Linked DNA regions of Homo sapiens. The protein of the gene in region 2 interacts with the protein of the main gene of each other region in a pairwise test. Each region holds a gene or a part of one and is shown on either strand. Other genes may lie near its edges.

Region 1 (7,031 bases), on a different chromosome or scaffold from region 2:
GCGTAGAGGCACATCAGGGAGTTTCCTCTCCTTCCCCCAGTATCAGTGGGAGTAAGAGAAATAATTACACTGAAGCATAGTAGGAAGAAGGAATTATCAGGGCAAGGCACACTGCAGCAAAAAAGTCATTTCAACAACACCATCGCAAGACCATTTCATAAGATACGGTCAGTTAAAAAAAAAAAACTTCTAAGAAATGTCATAATTGCAAGGTCAGATAAATAGATGACACTCCCTTTTCTTCGAGGAAAGCATCTGAGAACTACATGCACATTGAAATTTTTAGAAAATAAGAAAGTATATCAAATCTTAAATCTTGTTTACAAGGTTCTGTCACTTCCTAGCAATGTGGCTTCAGGCAAGTTTAGCTTGCCTTCAGCCTTATTTTCCTCATCTGGACTATATTAGTACATATCTGGCAAACTGAGAATTCGGTAATACGACTAAGTGCCTAGCTCTTTTATCTCAACAAGGAAAAAAGGGATTAGGAGATGTTTAGCGTTACTCAGTCTAAAAGTTCTGTTTGATGGAGCCCTAAGAGAGGTGTTTTAATTGCTAAGCAAAGATAGAGAAGTAGAAAGAGCAAATACACAAGGTTGCAGGAAAAACGTTTCCATCTTCTACATTCTTAATCCGTGAAAACAATTTGAGAGAGAGAGAGAAAAAAGAAGAGGGTCCTCCTTCTGAAGTCAGTAACAGATACACCACTGGAGAAAATGCTAACAGTTCCCCCCCACCCCACCCACTGATAGACCATTAGAAGAAAAAGAGGTTAGGGGAGAAGAAATAGGATTAAGAAAATTGCTACTGTCAGATTTGATGACTCAGGTAGATAACTGTTAAAAATGTTTTTCCAACTCCACTTTTCAGTGTGTCGTTCTGCTTATTTACATGTACACATGCCACTGTCAACCAATTCCTGTAATTAACCAAGATTAAATCAGGATTCACGATGAAAACAAAAACTTTATTACTTTAAGACAACTATAGCTTAATAATATATTAAAAATATATAAAAGTGTATCAAATTTAAATATTTAGTAAAATTTAATAGTTTTGGCTTTGTCCATTCTTCTTGCATGTGCATACATACTGATTTGTATTTCAGAGTATATGCTTAAGAGTATAAGCAAAAACGAAACAAAAAATTTCTAAAACATATGCCACATGGCTTTATGGTCCCCCAGTCAGAACTAACAACAACTTACCTTCAAGTTTTTTAAGCAGCAATTCTATCACAGATAAAGCTTCTGTTCTCACAGATGAGTAGGTCTTATTTTCTAAAAAGAAATATCATACAGTTCATATGGCCTGCCTGAAAAACACAACCTCCAAGATTAAATTTGTGTTGCTGAAAGAAAGATGTCCAGAAATTACAACTCTAGGGAAGGGTATATCTGATTTTTTTTTTTTAAAGGAAGCTTCCCTTTGCTAAGTATCAAATACTTGAAATGTGTGCTAATGTCCACAGTCTTTACTTTGGAAAAACAAAAACCTGTCAGCCAAGTATACCAATCACCACAACAAATGGCAATATTTAAATGATCCATTTTAGAAGTGGGAGATGAAAAAACTATCTCAAACACAAAATCATCTTCGTATCACGGATAAGAACGATCCTTAGGTCTACATGACCCTCCTCATTTTACCAAAGAACATTATATGACCCAGTGTTTAAGCCGATCAGGGACACCTGGAACTCAGCAAAGAGAGGTCTGTTGGCTGCCTGTTCTTTATCCATAAAAGGATGCTGCTGCCAACAACTGCGAATGAAACATGCTTCCTTGGCATCCACTCTTTGACACGGCGTCTGGTTCATGGTGAAATTGTCTACCAAAAAAATCAACACACAACCAAGCCCAAAGCAGGGTAGGCATGAGATGGGCCTTATCATCTTGTTATGCTACAAAGTACAAAAGTGCTACAAAGAGTGACGGTGACCTGTCAAAAGGACACAGGAGGCAGCTTGAAAGGGCTTCCACTGGCCAAATCTGGGACAACTGGAATAACGAATTAGATTTAAAAAATTAAATTATAAACCATTTGAAGGGGGAAAGATTCCATGAATCAATGCCAGTAACAGATAAATAAAAACATGGGCAGAAGAGAAGAATCTTGCTTACAACAGAATTCCAACTATCAAATGGTGAATGTGGACAAAGTGCTAGAGTTGCAAAATCATCTTAGTAAAAATTGGTTCAGGGAAGAATCATCAATGCATGCTAAATATAGAGAAGAAATTTTAAAGAAGAGAAACAAATTACTTGAATGATCTTAAGATCTGTTCCCACAGGCTACTTATTAGACACAAAAAGAAAACATAGTAACTATCCAGTAGAGAAAAACTGATAGTACCTTGACCAGGTAATCAAAATTAACATCACAAATGATGACAGATGGACACTGTGTGCCTCTTAATGTGAGGACACATCACTTATGTATGTATCCCAACTGGGAATTCACAACCTGGATATAATCATGAGAAAACATCAAACACCAAATGAGAAACATTCTGTTTTTTCAAAAAGGGAAGTCGGGGGGACTTTATTCTTCAAAATTGTCAATGTCCTAAGACAAAGAAAGGCTGACGAAGTATTCCAGATTGAAGGAGACTAAAAATATATGACAATAAAATTCAATAAATAATCCTGGAGGCCAAGGCGGGCAGATCACTTGAGGTCAGGAGTTCAAGACCAGCCTAGCCAACATGGTGAAACCCCGTCTCTACTAAAAATACAAAAATTAGCCAGGCATGATGGCACACACCTGTAATTCCAGTTACTTGGGAAACTGAGGCAGGAGAATCACTTAAACCCAGAAGGCAGAGTTGCAGTGAGCCAAGATCACGCCACTGCACTCCAGCCTGGGTGACAGAGCAAGACCCTGTCTCAAAAATAATAATAACCATTATCATCATCATCATCATCATCATCATCATCATCATCACCTGGACTGGATTCCCTAATGGAGGGGAGGGGGAAAAAATCCTATAAAGAACATTACTGGCTGGGTGTGGTGGCTCATGCCTATAACTCCAGTACTTTGGGAGGCCAAGGCAGGTGGACTGCTTGAGCTCAGGAGTTTTGAGACCAGCCTGGCCAACTTCGTGAAGCCCTGTCTCTACAAAAATACAAAAATCAGCTGGGCGTGACAGTACACACTTGTAATCCCAGCTACTTGGGAGACTGAGGCAGGAGGACTGCTTGAACCTGGAAGGTAGAGGTTGCAATGAGCTGAGATCACACCACTGCACTCCAACCTGAGTGACAGAGCGAGACTCCAACTCAAAAAAAATAAAAATAAAAATAAAGAACATTACCGAATCAACTGAACAAACTAGAATATGAACGATAAACATTTGATTTAAAAAACTGCATCCATGTTTACTACCTAAAGTTGACAACTGTACCGTGGCACACTAAATAATTGAGGAACAAGGGGGCCTGAAGTAAGCAACATACTTTCAAATGGTTCAGGAGAAAAACATGTATATAGAAGTCCAAATGACAAAGCAAATGGCACAAAATGTTAACAAATGATTCTGCATAAAGTGTATACATATTGCAGAGTATTACATGTACTGTCGTTGCAACCATTCTGTAAGTTTGAAATTACTTTCAAGTAACAATTTTGTAAAAATACTTGTCACGAAGGTTTTTCTAAACTAGATGCTAAAATCCTGTTATAGTTCCAGATTTAAATATTCCAGTTAAGGGGTACACATGGAGTATAATAAGTAGCAGAGTCCAGTAGCTATTTCAGAAATTTAGTTCCTAAGACAAAGTAGGAAATATTTGAAGCTCAGCTCCTTAGCTTTAAAATTAGGACTCCCTCATCAGTTTTAGTTTACTACACTCACCTAAAGAATATGTGATTGATTTACAAGTTTCAAGCAGAATTTCAGCCAAAGCCTCAGGATCGGCATGTTCTTCTTCCAAAAGCATTAACCTATACAAATCAGAAAGCAAGGTACAAATGCCAATTATTAAGAAACAGTCTAAAACTTTCCTGTCACAATTTCTATCTGTATGTATCACTGTCACTTTAGCTACCAGTTTTTAAATGTATAAAAATTCCATTGATTATACATAAAATGCTGCGGGGAGGAACAAAATAAAAAACTGAGCCATGAAGCAATTTACCCCTGAAAAAAGGCATTCATTGATTGCAGGACTCCTAGCTGCACTTTCCACGTGCTGAGTTTTAGCCGTTCACACATCAGTTTGCACAGCTCCTGACGATAACAACCTGGGAAAAAAAGACAAGGTGGGACAGAGCAGGAGACAGTATAAAAGAACAAGAGATGGAATAAATGAGGGACAGGCAGAGAGAGCAAGAGAAAGGAAGAGGGAAAGAGAAAGAGAGAAGGTGGGGAGGATAAGAGAGAGAAAAGCAGGAAAAAGAGAAATAAAACAATAAATACTTTTAATTAAAGCCATTGAAATTTCCCCAAAAACTTCAGCATGACTTTGTACTCAATCCCCAAACAAATTTCCTTGATCAGAAACTGCCCCCACAAAGGTGCAATATAATTGTTCACAAATATTCACTTTCAAGGCATATGGTTCTCCATGGAACTGAGAAAGCACTTTAACCACACTCCCTTTGCCCCTCAAAACTCCCTGAATGACAGCCACAGAAAGAACTCTGGAGGCCAGAAGCTCCTCTCTAGATGCTCACAAGCTTCTGCAAATTGCAGGTTTACCAAGAGTCAACAGTGCTTTATTATAAACCTGTTATGCCAACTGCAACTGTAATTATAACTATATAATTAATATTATGCCAACTGATGAATCAGCAGAAAACTCAACAACGAAGTTATTTTTAATTACTGTAGGATTTAGTAGGGCTCAAACAAATGTAAAAATGGGGGGAGGCAATAAAAAATCTAGAATTCTGCACTAGGATTGTCTCATAAGAGCTTGAAATTTCTTTCTCTGTTTTAAAGAAACAAAACCCAGAAATTGTAGATATATATGAGAAGCCAATGTGTAACAGTTAAGTTCCTAAAGAAAAGGCCTTGGTTCTCAATAAATGCACATTTCTATTAACAACCTTCTATGTCTTATATTAAAATAAACTGCTTTATGTTTGTATCATCTTTCTCATATAATTCCCTACTTTAGCTTTCTCTACCTATCAAGGAAAAGTTAATACTCTTTATGGCATCATATTAGTGGACTTCCATGGCAGTCTATAACATAATATTAAGAAATAAAACCACCTGCAAATTTGTATCTTCTGGGAAACCCTTCCTATAAACATAGCAAATATATAAGTTCACACAAAGGATGACAGGGCTCAAAGAGAACCTTAACTGATTCTAGACATATCCAATCACAAATAATCAACAGTACTTTTTATAACATTCAATAATATTGTCGCTGGGCATGGAGGCTCATACCTATAATCCCAGCACTTTGAGAGGGAGGCCAAAGTGGGAGGATCACTTGAGCCCAGGAGTTTGAGACCAACCTGGGCAACATAGCAAGACCTCACCTCTTCAAAAAAAATTTGCTGGGTGTCGTGGCATGCACTTGTAGACCCAAATACTTGGGAGGCTGAGGCAGGAAGATCACTTGAGCCCAGGAGGTAAAGGCTGCAAGAACTGCACCACTGCACTCCAGCCTGGGCAACAAAGCAAGACCCTGTCTCAAAAAAAAAACAAACAAAAAAAAAACGAATACTAAGATCTTCAGCAGGATGCACTGTAGGACCCAACACAAGGCAAGCTTAAAGGGTAGCATCATCACTTCTTGGCCTTTTGGCTAAGATCAAGTGTAAAGGGTAGTATCATCCCAAGGTTAAGGCCCTGTCAGGGGACTCCAAACTAACTGCAACCTCATCCAATAATAGAGGTTTACTGTTCATTTAATCTTTGGGAAATACATGTCCAGTTCTGAAAATTGTCCAAATAGTAATGAGTTTTTCACTGAAACAGGGATTTCAGTTGCTTACTGAACACTTGGTAACAAGACCATTCATTTCAGGATAAAGAGACCCTGCTAATAAACTTTGTGCATTCCTCTGAATAGAGCTATGATCATCAAGAAGATCAGTAGAACTCGTCTATCAAACTATCTGCATAAAATGTATCATGGTTATTATAGGTGGAACTGTGCCCCCAAAATTCGTATGTTAAAATACTATCCCCCAGTACCTCAGAATTTGACTGTATTATTATTAAATAGAAGACAGAGCCTTTAAAGAGGTCATATGAGTGGGCCCTAATCCAGCGTGCCTGGTGTCCTTATAGGAAGAGGTGATTAGGGCACAGAGACACCAAAGACCACGTGAAGACACAGGGAGAAGACAGCCATTCCCAAGCCAAGGAGAGAGGTCTCAGGAGAAACTAACCCTGCTGACGCCTTGATCTCGAAATCTCAGACTTCTATCCTCCAGAATTGTGAGAAAATAAATTTCTGCTAAGCCACCCAGTCTGTGATACTTTCTTACAGCAGCCCTAGCTACAGCGGTACAATGATCAGTGAGATCACAGACTCATGTAGACAAAAAACTTTCACTGGATAATTCTCATTATTAATCAATCAGGCTCGATAAGAAACAATAACTATAATTTGTCATAGAGAAAATTCTTCGCTCTCATTAAGTAACCTCTGGTTACAGCACTTCAAATGCAGTTTCTGGTGCTTACGTTGGGTCTCCGCGTTTCGCGGCCAGGCTTTGCCCAGGCTTTCAAAGGCACCCAGCAGATATTCCAGCTGGAGCTCCTTTTCCTTTTCATTCTCCTCTTCATTTTTGGTTGTCCGGACCCCACTGCTTTCAAGTGAGTTCTAGGATATATCAAAGAAAAGAAAATGTAATATTTTCTTCTTCAAAGTTACAGGTATACTATTAAAGCTATCAGGGTACCAACCAAGGCAGGAGATATTAACCAAGAGTTAAATGATAAATTCTCTACCATAAGTTTCCCTATTTACAACAAGAATTTATAACCAGAATACTGTATCTCTAATAAATTTAGGCAATACTTTACAGGCATCTGTAAACAAAAGCTAAAAAATACTGCA
Region 2 (7,700 bases):
TATCCCTTCAATATTCAATTCAGTTCTGTAATAGCAAACCCCATGGAGCCTCAGAGGTTTGAAAAAAAAAAAAAAACCTTAAGAGTGCAAAGAACCTCAGAGGTAATTCAATTCAACCTCCGAAGACTCTAATGTAAGAATTTCCTAAGTATATACACAATGTCTGGTTTTTAAGTTTTAGAGCAGGCTTTTCTCTTGTAGGATCTTTGAGATTCTGTTAAGATTTATGGGTCCAGAATAATATACTCAAACATATAAGTGTACAATATTTTGAATAAAATTTCACAGGGTTTGCAGGTCCCTTGTTAAAACACCTCCTCTTCTGATTACGGGTTTCTCCATTACAGTTGTTTCCTTACTGGAGCTCGCAATTCTGTTTAGTTTTTTAAAAAAATTAAACATTTAAAGTAAAACAACCAATCTATCTAAAGGAAGAATTTGAGTTAAGGCAAAGACCTTGCCTATAGCCCCAGGCTGGAAGACAACTTTTACCGACTTCATATGTAACCTTCTTGGGACTTGCTGGATAATTCCTGTAATATACTGTTACTGTGAAGAGATAAGACATTATCAAAACAAACAAAGGAACAAAAAGACAACCATCAAAGTGAAAGGCAGTAATGAAAAAGTACTTTTAAATCTCCACATTAAAGAAAGCATTCCTGTAACATGACAATTTCCCCATAAACAAATAAATGGATTTCATAAAGAGATATTAGTTTTTATTTTTTCTCCATTTCTTCTTATGAATGATGGAGAACTAATAATAGTCTAACGATCTTTTAAGGCAAATTCATCTTCTCTGTGTCCAAGTATAACATTTACCACAAAAATTTCTGGTTGTGTTCCATGTTTTCTTCTATAACAGCAATAAGGAAGGAAACTGGTTATGTTCTATTCCAAAGATACGAAACTACAGTTTACTAAACTATAAGAAGGTAATCAGAAAATTTACTTTAGCTTTGCCACTTTTTATTAGAAAGAAAATAATAAAGGCAACTGAAAACAGGAGATTTTGTGGGCAGCAAACCAATACAGATGATTTTTTTCGAGCAGCAAGAATGCTTCAGATGGGCTGGGCGCAGTGGCTTACGCCTGTAATCCCAGCACTTTGGGAGGCCCGGAGGGCGAAAATCACCTGAAGTCAGGAGTTTGAGACCAGGCTGGTCAACACGGCGAAACCCCGTCTCTACCAAAAAAAAAAAAAAAAATCAGCCGGGCATGGAGGTGCGTGCCTGTAGTCCCAACTACTCGGCACGAGAATTGCCTGAACCCGGGAGGCGGAGGTTTCAGTGAGCCGAGATTGCGCCACTGCCCCCAGCCTTGGCGATAGAGCAAGACTCGGTCTCAAAAAAAAAAAAAAAAAAAGCTTCAGATGAATATTCTTTTCTGTTCTAAAGAGTTCTACTATTCACGTAGAAAATTTTAGCTTTACTGCAGAGAAATACAGCTAATACCTAAAAATCATCATGTGACAGCTGACAAGAGAAGAGAAGGAAGAAGGAAGAAGGTAGAAGGAACAGCTTATGCAAAGGAACAGTGGCAGGAAAGAGCCCCTGATGCCTCGTAATAAATTAAAGGTGGCCAGTGTGGAACCACCTAGAGGGAGACTGGGAGAAAGATAAGGCCAGATCCTACTGGGTTCCATAGGCCACATTATCACTTGCTTTCAAATGATTTCCCAGTCATCAGCAGATGTGATCATTTTGATCGCTAAACAGCAGTGCCGATTTTCCGACTTCTGTTTTTCTATTCAATAAAAGTAGGTCACTAGAGTTCTAAGAATTTAACTTCGGGTCATTTGAGTTGTAAGAATTTAAGTTCTTTCCAAGGAAACCAATGAGCTAATTTTTACTTAGAATGGTTAAAAAACAAAACAAAGTAAGACAAAACTCATAAACATCATAAGCATTCGGATTTTTCCTAAACTGGTTCTATTGCAGAAATAGAACCTAAACTGTTTCTATTTTTCCTAAACTGGTTCAACCATCAGTGGTTGGAACAGTACATAGGAGCCAACACGACTGTAAAGTGAATAATTTAAATCTCAAAGATGCTTTGATGTTTTCACGAACAGGTTTATGGTACTTCAACTGCTTAAAATAAACTCAATAAAATGGAAAGATGCATACCATGTCCTAGTTCAGCTATCCGCACATACTTACAAAAAGCTGTCCTTTTGACTTTCCACTTAGAACCCATATTGCTCAATTTTGAAATAATTCTTTTCCAGTCAATATAAAACTTTTAGAAGACAATTTACCGGACACACATACACACACATCTCAATGCCACGCGTGGTATCGCAGGACTTTGTCCAGCAAGTTAAACTGCCCCCATGGGCTCGCAGCAGGAAAACCGCAAGAGCCAGAGAAAGATAAACAGCGCTTCACAGTCTAAATACAGGCACTGTGGGCGATAATGCAGGGTAGCAGCAGAGAGAAGAGAGGAAAGTCGCCATAGAGGATGAGTGAAAGATGTTGAAGTGGCTGACTTGGGTCTCCGACGCATTTCCTGAGCCCGCCTAACAGGCTGGGTGGCCCCAGTTCGTGGGATCCCGATGGGGAGAGCCTTGGGACTGAGGGGCCGCCCGGCGGAAGGGCGGAGGGTAACGCCCCCTTCCCCAGGCTGAGAGGGAAGGAACTAGAGGTGTGGAAACCTCCTTTTACTGAACAACCAAGCTGAAACGAAGGAGCTCGGCGGCCTCCCAAGCCCGGGCCAGACCCCGCTCCCCAGCCCGGGCTCGCCCTCCCTGACCGCGGACTCACCAGCTGCAAGCCCTTGAGAACGCGCCGGAGCAATGGGAGCCGGCCCATGAAAAAGTAGGCAGCGAGGCCGCTCCGGGGGCCTCTGGCGGGGCCCGGGTCCTCCTCCGTAGTGGGGCTGTACACCGCTCCGTTCTCCATCGCCTCGGGCCGGGGAGCGCGGCGGCCGCAGCAACCGCGCCGTTGACTTCTCGGACTCCAGAAGTCCCCGGTAGCCGGGAGGCGGCCGTCACTTCCTGGGCCTTCTCCCCGGCTTCCGCCTGACTCCGCCCCTTCCCGCCCCCGCCCTTGGCCCGCCCCGCCCCCTCTCAGCAAATTTGCTTGTTAGCTGTTGGGATTCTTCCGACTTTCATCCAAGAATTGAGTTCTTTCTGTGAGCCTTTGATGGATTTCTCACCTCCCTCCATCTTTCATCCTCCTGACATTCATTCACTTAGTATTTTTGCGTACTTTCGGTGTGCAGTGAACCCCGTTCTAGGTACTTGGGTGACAGCCAAGTACTACCCAAAATCACAGGATCCCTAGTAACAGAGACAGACAATAAACAAGAAAACAGATGGATAGCAATTTCAGATAGTGATAAGTGACGTGAAAATATGATACGAAAATAATGGATTCAGCATTTCTGGTGGCTTGATAAATTTATTAAAAAAAAAAAGAAGATGGAGGAGGAGGAGAAGAGGAAGGAGAAGGAAAAAAGGATGGAGAATTGGGTGCTCTACTTAAATGGCCACTACTAAACTGAGTGGTCAGGAAAGGCCTCTCTGAGGACCATGATCTTTGAATTGAATGAGACTCAAAGTGTGAGAAGCCAGGCTTGTAAAGTTCTGGGGAGAGCCTTTCACGAAAGTGCAAATGTCCCGAGGACCAAATGAGTTTGACTCAATCTGAAGCCCAAAGGCCTGTGTCGCTAGGAATAAGTACGGGAGGAAAGGAGATGTTGGAGATGTAGGCAAAGGCCAGATAATGTGGAGGCCTTGCAGACCAAGGGAAGAATTCGTATTTCATTTGAAGTACAATGAGTTGTCTGTAAGGACTTTCAGAATCGCTCCCTCCCGCGTCTCCCGAAATTCCATTTAGGCTCACTTTTCAAAATCATTTCCTTTTTCTCTTTCTTGGTCACCAACTGCTACAGTCACATATGTTAATTTTGTGTGAACTTGTCAAGGAATGTAATTATATTTTAGCAACTGAAGTTGATTGAGTTACAGGATGTTCACAACAATATAAAGTAGGTTCGACAGTATAAAGTCGGTTACATTCATTTTCAAATGAGAAAACTGAGGCCAAGAGGCTGAAATCATATCCAAGGTCAAACAGCCAGGAGCAGCTGGAATGCAGGCCTAAGCAGTCTGACTCGAAACCTTGCTGCTAAACGCTAACCCAGAAAACGTCAGCTTCTAACTCATCTCTCCATTGGAGTCTCAAAACCCATGGAAGAGAGAAGGGGTTTCTGCTGCCATCAGCTGCTACATCTTCTCCGTGGCCCCAAACCTCCCTTTCTTCTTCCAGTAACAAACAAAAGCTCCCATTCAAATGAATAGAGACAAGTAGATACTGCCCTGCAGGGGCCACCTACAACCAGCCAGAACTACCCTTCTGTCTCTGATTACATGCACTCTGAATGTCCTCCCAAGGCCAAGATGCCACCAATTCTGTCCAACAAGGAAGGCCACTGTATTTTCACCAGGGCTACAAGGATTCATTGCCCCATTATTCTTCAAGTCACTATCATCCCAAATTAGACACTACTGATGTCTAAAAGTTCCTTTGAAATTCATCCAAAATTAAGATGAGTTGATGACTAGAGAGATGGATAAAAGATTTGTGATAGGCCAGGCGCAGTGGCTCACGCCTGTAATTCCAGCACTTCGGGAGGCCGAGGCAGGTGGATCACCTGAAGTCAGGGGTTCGAAACCAGACTGACCAACATGGTGAAACCCCGTCTCTACTAAAAATACAAAAATTAGCCGGGCGTGGTGGCGTGTGCCTGTAATCCCAGCTACTCGGGAGGCTGAGGCAGGAGAATCGCTCAAACCCGGGAGGTGGAGGTGGCAGTGAGCTGAGATCGCGCTACGGCACTCCGGTCTGGGCAACAGAGTGAGACTCCGTCTCAAAAAAAAAAAAAAGCAGGCCGGTCGCGGTAGCTCACGCCTGTAATCCCAACACTCTGGGAGGCCGAGGGGGACGGATCACGAGGTCAGGAAATCAAGACCATCCTGGCTAACACGGTGAAACTCCATCTCTACTAAAAATACAAAAAATTAGCCGGGCGTGGTGGCGGGCGCCTGTAGTCCCAGCTACTCGGGAGGCTGAGGCAGGAGAATGGCGTGAACCTGGGAGGCGGAGCTTGCAGTGAGCCGAGATCACACCATTGCACTCCAGCCTGGGCGACAGACCGAGACTCCGTCTCAAAAAAAAAAATCATTGTTAAAAAAACAACAACAACAAGGATCTCTAATAAAGCAACTGCAGTAACATATTAATGGTAATATTTAGGTGAAGTATACGGGTGTCCACTGTACAATTATTTCAGCATTTCTGTATGTTTGAACATTTTCAAAATAAAGTATTGGGAGGAAGTTACAAAGAAACAAGGATACTTTGAGACAAGAGAGAAGATGAACAGACTTCGTCAACCCTCTTGGTTTGTTTAGGGCACACTTATGCAATTCTCTAGGGGTCTCTGCTTCTCTTTGCATTTTTAGAAGAAGACACAAATTTAGCCTGTGATTCATAAACTCCAACATGGCGAAGAATCATCTGTGAGATTAATTAAAAAGGAAGATTCTTGGAGATCTAGCCCCAAAGATTCTGAATGTAGATGGGGCTTGGGAATATACTTTCGTAACAAGCTCTTCATGTGAATCTGGGAAGAAATCCATCCACATAGAGAAACACTGTTTTATAATGTGATAAAAGTGAAAGCCATTGTGTAGTAGACAGTAGACGTGCCATATTTTCTTTGCTCTGATTGATTTGGGGGTGCCTGGGATTTAGAGACTAATATTTCACCCAGGTAAAGAAATGGGCATCCCTTACATTTTCTTCATAAATTGAAAGACCAAATAAAAATGTTAGTGCTTCATGAGCAAATACTTGTATAGGAAACTCTTTTGATGGGCATATTCACACAGAAAACTGTCACCCTCATTAATGAATAAAACAACTTGCAATAGTCAAATGGTGGGACTCACTATGTTGAAATGAGAAATCTTACGTATGGTGAAAAAAATACGACAAAAAGAAGAAAGGAAGATACACTAAATTTAGGTTTTAAAGAATATTCACTGTTCTCCTTTAAAATTAGATATTTAATTTTTTAAAAAAAGAAAGAAAAACATTCACAAGAAGAGAGAGCGATTGGGGAACATAATTTGATGGGACTTCAGCCATTCAAAAAATAATGTGGTAGTGTTGGAGGCTGTTGCAAGACCTTGGTTCTTGTCTTCTTAGTTTAAAAGAATTTAAACAAGAGACATACAGCAAAAGAGATGCAGCATAATTTATTGCAAAAGAAAAAAAAATTTTGAAAGCTAAGTACAAAATAGACATCACACCCTGAGAGAGAGAGAGAATTCAGGGCAGGCTGCTCGTAAGGATGAGACAACATTGATTATTGCTGGAGGTTATTGCTAATCATGTATTATTTGCATGATTATTCATAAGGAGGTGGGAAGAAGTGTTACCGTTAGGTTCGTGCAAGAGTAATCGCGGTTTTGGCCATTACTTTAAATGCAAAAACCACAATTACTTTTGCACCAACCTAGTAGTAAGCATCTTCTGGTTGGTCCTCTGGCTGCACATGTGCAGTAGCTGTGCACCCATGTTCCTCCCTCAGGTGTCCCATTAGCATTGTAAATCTCCACCCAAGGGCATGTTTTTTGCTATTATAATGAGCAAAAGGTCAGTTTGAGGACAGGTAAAATCAAAGTGCTCATGCTCTCTATAGAAGAAATTTCCTACTGAAGATAGCTTTGCTCGACTGAGTTCAATCACAATTCAAATGCTGAGGCTTATTGTGTTGACTGTTGGGGTCACCATGGTTGCTGCGTCCTGAGGATATGGGCACTTCCTTGACTGCCTATCCTGCCTCAGTACTACTTTTTCAGTTCAGAGTTTAATTTTTTTCAGCAGTTCCTGCTAAACAATTTTTCACTGGCCCTCTTATCGGTATTAGCACAGTTAGGCAATACTGTGGATACAAAGTTAGATTATAGACGCTATCCTACAATGATACCACAGTAATGTCCACAAAGAACTATGTTACAAAATAGAAAGAGATATGTGTTATAGAAGAGATACAAATTAAATATGTTGCTAATTCGGAGCAGAGAGAAATAACTTTCAGTTTAAAGGATCACTACAGTGGAGCTTCAAGATGGGGTTAAACTATACTTCGGTTTGGACATGCAGATACAGGGCAGAAAGTATTCAGGCAGTAGGGTGGTATGAAGGAAGGCAAAGAAAGTGTGCATAGGCACAGTGAATGAAGGGAGCAGGAAAGGACAGAGTAGTTAAGGAATATAAGCTCGAGATCAAATTTTGGAAGGCTTTGAAAATCAAGCTAAGGAACTGGGCCTTTCCATTATTGTTGGGTAATGAAGAACCCCCAACGAGTTTTAGGAAGGGGAGTGAAATGATCGGAGCTTTTCCTTGGGGATATTTTTCTAGTAGCCTTGAGCGCAGTGGTTACAGAGATCCAAGTAAGGGCTATTGTAAAAGTTCAGGAGAGAGGGAATAGAAGCTTAAACTCTGACGTTAATCATGGGGATGGCACCAAGAGAACCTTGGAGGTAAAACCAGTGAGATTTGAGGACTGATTTGTTTAGAGAGTAAGAAAGGAACTGGAGCAGGTGCCAATATTTCAAGTCTGGGTAACAAGGAGATTGAGGGAGAATAATAACAGAGAGGTAATATAGGAGGCAGTAACTC
Region 3 (4,796 bases), on a different chromosome or scaffold from region 2:
GGACTTTGAAAAAAATACCCCCTCCCAAGCCCCAGATCGCCATTGGTAAACAACAGCTCTATTAATAAAGCCTTTAAGTGTCACACATGCTTTAAAAAAAAAAAAAAAAAATCCAAGTGTTGAATTTGGAGGACTTCTAATACGCTATTGAATATTTCTTTTTTCCAAAAGTTTTTTTTAATCTAGAAGGCATTTCCATTGCCTTGAGGTACAGTATGTTTCACTGTACTATGAGGAAGGTAAGTGTTCAATTTCGACTTAGACGGAAAAACTAGTTTGCTTTGCTTACCATCTTTGCTGTTTCACAGGCATTTGATGCTTTAAATCTGATGTGGAATGCTGATAGATTCACTTTTTAGAAGTCATAAGCCTTTAGGAAGTTGGAGATAACTTCATTGCTTATCTATTTTCTCCTTTGCAATCAAGCTGTTCCTTTAAAAGTGAGACACTACAGAGTTGCAAAAATTTGAAACAGTAAGAGCAAGCACCTTTGCAGCTTCATGGTTGGTTTTGGCCAAACTTTTTATTTAGTATTCTGTAGTTGTTTAACACACACTTAAATGGTCTTATTGGGGGAAGGGAAAGGGGAGGTTCTTGCAGATTCCCAAGGAAATGTCAGAAAGGCAAAATGGCCAGCATTATCCATTTGCTTTTTTGGGTTTACTGGGTGAATAGCACTTTCCTTACATAGGCATGTGATTTCAGGTTTTTCGTACTGAGAACATTGAGATTTCAGTTGGAAGACACCCTGAAATCTTATGAGTAGCATACCCCAACCACCCTCTAATAGCTAGCTTGTTTGTATAGGTAGAATGATTCATCTCTCCATTTTAGATGGCTAGATGTTTTGTGGAAGATCTTAGAATTGCCTGCCTCATTTGCTGGGAAAAATCAGATAGGAAGTGGCCTTTAGGGGATACTTTTACTTGGAAAGTTACAACACTAGTACAAGTCTTAACACATTTAACATTTGCTTGTTGAAAAGCAATGCGAAAGTCAAATAAAATTAAACATGTTTTACTTTTTTCCTCACAAGAACATAAAAATTATGGAGGGGAACTTAACAGGGAATTTAAAAAAAGTAACACAATTTTTCCTTTTAGTAGTCCTTGGGTAGTTATGATAGAATAGTTTCCACTTTTTGTTTCTTTGAACTGGGATTTTGGTCCAAAGTTTTGTTTGTTTCTAGTATCTGCTTCTGCCTCCCCCTCTATCAGATCGGCTTCCTCCACGGCCACCACCTCTTGGTGCTCCGCGGCTTGAACTGCTGTAGGAATCACGTGGAGGAGGGTACCCCCTTTCCATAGAAGGGGGAAGCCCTCTTTCTTGTCTGCCAACCCGATCACGACCACTTGAGTAGAGATCACTTCGGCTGCTTGAGTAACTGTCTCGACTTCCACCATATCCGTCACGTGAGCTGCTGTAATCATCATAGCGACTGCTTCCACCATAAGATGGCGGGGGCCCTCGTGTAGGTGGAGCACTACGTGAGTTACCTGCAGGGTCAATGGTCAGGTAATATGGCAACACTATAAATTGTATATATACAACATTTTAAATCTGAATTTACAGAATTCTTGTATTAAAAGTTTACTTTCTCAACTGGGTGGGAGGTTTTAAACTCTGCCATTGCTGGCCATAACAGGGATTTGCTCATCTGCTGAGATATGGAATTGGATTCATTTTAATGTTTGTTTGAAAAGACTGAAGACGGTGTGTATTTCAAGAGGATATTCCAGAGAGCTTGTTATTTTATAGTAGACACTCAGCCACTTTCCAGTGATAAGTTGCAATTTTGAACTGTAGAACTTGCCTTCATATTGCAATGGTAAATATTTGATCTTGTTAATAAAATTTTTAAATTGTATTTTCACTGTTGGGGGAAAACACATAAGGCTGCCAATTTAAGCAAGCAAAATCCCCTCCAAAGCAAGCAAACAGCCTCAAAAGAAACTTAGAAAAACAAAAAAAGCCCCTCACAAAACTAGGAAAAGCCCAGCTGATAAAGTTACCCCTTTAAAAGCAAGCAAACATCCCTTTAAAAGCAAGCACCACACAGCCTAATAAACTGGCTCACGAACCTAAAAACTCAAGCTGGTGATACTAAAGACCCTTAACCAGTATCTTACCATAACTCTCATATGAATCTCTGTAGGAACCTCCACTTGGATGATCTGAATAGTCACGATCACGACCATATCCATCTCTATCGCTAAATTAAAGAGAAACCTTTAAGTCCCAGAGAATCAACTTTCATTGCAACTTTTCTTACATGTAAGCCACAGAAGCAAAGTCACTTACCTATATCCTCTTGATGGATAGTCATCACGTGAACTGGAATGACCATAATCACGGTAAGTATAATCTCGTGGTGGTGGTGCATAATCTCTAGTATCACGAGAACTTGGGTAATCTCTGCTTGAATAGCTACAAAGCAAAAGTTTTGGTTTATGCTTTTGATAAGCTTTCCTTCAACCTTAATTATTAATTTAAAAAGCTGCACTTTTCTATTACCTGTCTTTAGTAGAATACCCATCATCTCTTGGGGACAAATAAACATCTCTACGAGAGGGCAGCGGTTCCCTTCGAGGTGGACCTCCATAACTATCTCTTCCACGTGATACAGGAGCTTAAGGAAAAATATCATTTTTTTAAACATAGCCAGAGAAAAAAGTTAAAACGTGAACTTACATTCAGGCTATGAAAAATAATGAGACTGACTTCAAAGATGACATTACGGAGGCTAGATCACCTAATTTTATTTTCTACAATTTCCCATTCATATTTTAAATTTTTTTCAGTGCTAATTCCATTTATCTAATCACCTAGAACACATGACTAAAAGTTTTGTTTTTTTTTTTTGAGATGGGAGTCTCGCTCTGTCACCCAGGCTGGAGTGCAGTCGCGCAATCTTGGCTCACTGCAACCTCTGCCTTCTGGGTTCAAGTGATTCTCCTGCCTCAGCCTCCCGAGTAGCTGGGATTACAGGTGCCCACCACCACGCCCAGCTAACTTTTGTATCTTTAGTAGAGACAGGGTTTCACCACGTTGGCCAGACTGGCCTCGAACTCCGGGCCTCATGATCTGCCCACCTCAGCCTCCCAAAGTGTCAAGATTACAGGCGTGAGCCACCGCACCCAGACTCCATGAATAAAGTTTTTTTTTTTTGTTTTTTTTTTTTTTTTGGAGACAGAATCTCACTCTGTTGCCACGCTGGAGGACAGTGGCATGATCTCGGTTCCCTGCAACCTCTGCCTCCCAGGTTCAAACAATTCTCCTGCCTCGGCCTCCCAAGTAGCGGGGATTACAGGAACCCGCCCTACACTCAGCTAATTTTTGTATTTTTTAGTAGAGACGGGGTTTCACCACATTGGCCAGGATGGTCTTGATCTCTTGACACCGTGATCCGTCTGCCGCGGCCTCCCAAAGTGCTAGGATTACGGGCGTGAGCCACCACGCCTGGCCAATTAAAATTTTAAGCATCATTCACCTCTCAATTCTTTGTGTTACGGTAGTAGCATAAATCATCATACATGGAACATTTACCTCTTCCTCCCATTCCACTGCTACTGCGAACTGGTCCTGAAGGTGCAGATCTCTTAGGAGGAGGACCCCCACTTCTTGGTGGTGGTCCTCTTTTTACTGGGAGTGGTCCCCTGGAAGAACTCATGTTAAAATTCATGGAATATCCACCGTCATCTGCATCAAAAATAGAAAAGAAAAATATTACTACTCACAAGAATCAAGAAAGATATAAAAGTTTTTTTTTTTTTTTGAGAGTCTCACTGTCGCCCAGGCTGGAGTGCAGTGGCTTCATCTCGGCTCACTGCAACCTCTGCCTCCTGGGTTCAAGCAATTCTCCTGCCTCAGCCTCCCGAGTAGCTGGGATTACAGGTGTGCGCCACCACACCCAGCTAATTTTTGGTGGTTTTTTTTAAGTAGAGACAGGATTTCACCATGCTGGCCAGGCTGGTCTCGAACTCCTGACCTTGTGATCCGCCTGCCTCAGCCTCCCAAAGTGCTGGGATTGCAGGTGTGAGCCACCAGGCTCGGCCACTATAAAAGTTTTCTTTGCTTCATCAAGAATATGACCATTATTGGGCCGGGCACAATGGCTCACGCCTGTAATCCCAGCACTTTGGGAGGCCAAGGCGGGCGGATCACCTGAGGTCAGGAGTTCAAGACCAGTCTAACACGGTAAAATCCTGTCTCTACTAAAAATACAAAAATCCAGGTGTGGTGGTGCATGCCCGTAATCCCAGCTACTTGGGAGGCTGAGGCAGGACAATCGCCTGAACCTGGAAGGCAGAGGTTGTGGTGAGCCAAGATCGTGCCACTGCACTTCAGCCTGGGCAACAAGTGCTAAACTCTACCCCCCCCCCCCCAAAAAAAAACCATTATTGATTTGGGTAGTCTAGTTTCACTTGTACTTGATGGAGCATGCACTGCAGTCATAGAAACTGGGGAAATAAGAACTGAAGGTAGTCTTAAAAAACTTTTTTTTTTTTTTTTTGAGAGGGAGTCTCGCTGTTCCCCCAGGCTGGAGTACAGTGGCACGATCTCAACTCACTGCAACCTCTGCCTCCCAAGTTCAAGTGATTCTTCTGCCTCAGCCTCCGTAGTAGCTGGGATTACAGGCACCTGCCACCACGCCCAGCTAACTTTAAAAAATAAAAATGATTTCATTTTCATGTCCAACACCCTGGCCTATCAATTTTTAAATGCCTTTCCTACAGAGTGAACTACTTGGACAAGAAGTAACACTGTCCACGGTTTAACACCATAATCTAAAACAT

What was found. Proteins that work in one complex are often made in the same cells at the same time.
Region 1: the proteins of CMTM6 (region 2) and ECPAS interact in binary tests that used the Homo sapiens proteins (3 or more experiments, as listed by UniProt).
Region 3: the proteins of CMTM6 (region 2) and RBMX interact in binary tests that used the Homo sapiens proteins (3 or more experiments, as listed by UniProt).

What each region holds. Positions count from the first base shown.
Region 1 is NC_000009.12:111,362,380-111,369,410, forward strand, and holds part of ECPAS (proteasome adapter and scaffold protein ECM29), read right to left. Parts: intron 6,795-7,031; coding exon 6,656-6,794; intron 4,249-6,655; coding exon 4,143-4,248; intron 3,949-4,142; coding exon 3,860-3,948; intron 1,281-3,859; coding exon 1,209-1,280; intron 920-1,208; coding exon of another isoform or gene 909-919; exon of another isoform or gene 1-908. UniProt on the Homo sapiens protein: Adapter/scaffolding protein that binds to the 26S proteasome, motor proteins and other compartment specific proteins. May couple the proteasome to different compartments including endosome, endoplasmic reticulum and centrosome.
Region 2 is NC_000003.12:32,499,840-32,507,539, forward strand, and holds the start of CMTM6 (CKLF-like MARVEL transmembrane domain-containing protein 6), read right to left. Parts: upstream 3,014-7,700; 5' UTR 2,907-3,013; coding exon 2,769-2,906; intron 1-2,768. UniProt on the Homo sapiens protein: Master regulator of recycling and plasma membrane expression of PD-L1/CD274, an immune inhibitory ligand critical for immune tolerance to self and antitumor immunity.
Region 3 is NC_000023.11:136,872,957-136,877,752, forward strand, and holds the end of RBMX (RNA-binding motif protein, X chromosome), read right to left. Parts: intron 3,700-4,796; coding exon 3,547-3,699; intron 2,630-3,546; coding exon 2,515-2,629; intron 2,428-2,514; coding exon 2,302-2,427; intron 2,213-2,301; coding exon 2,130-2,212; intron 1,497-2,129; coding exon 1,186-1,496; 3' UTR 505-1,185; downstream 1-504.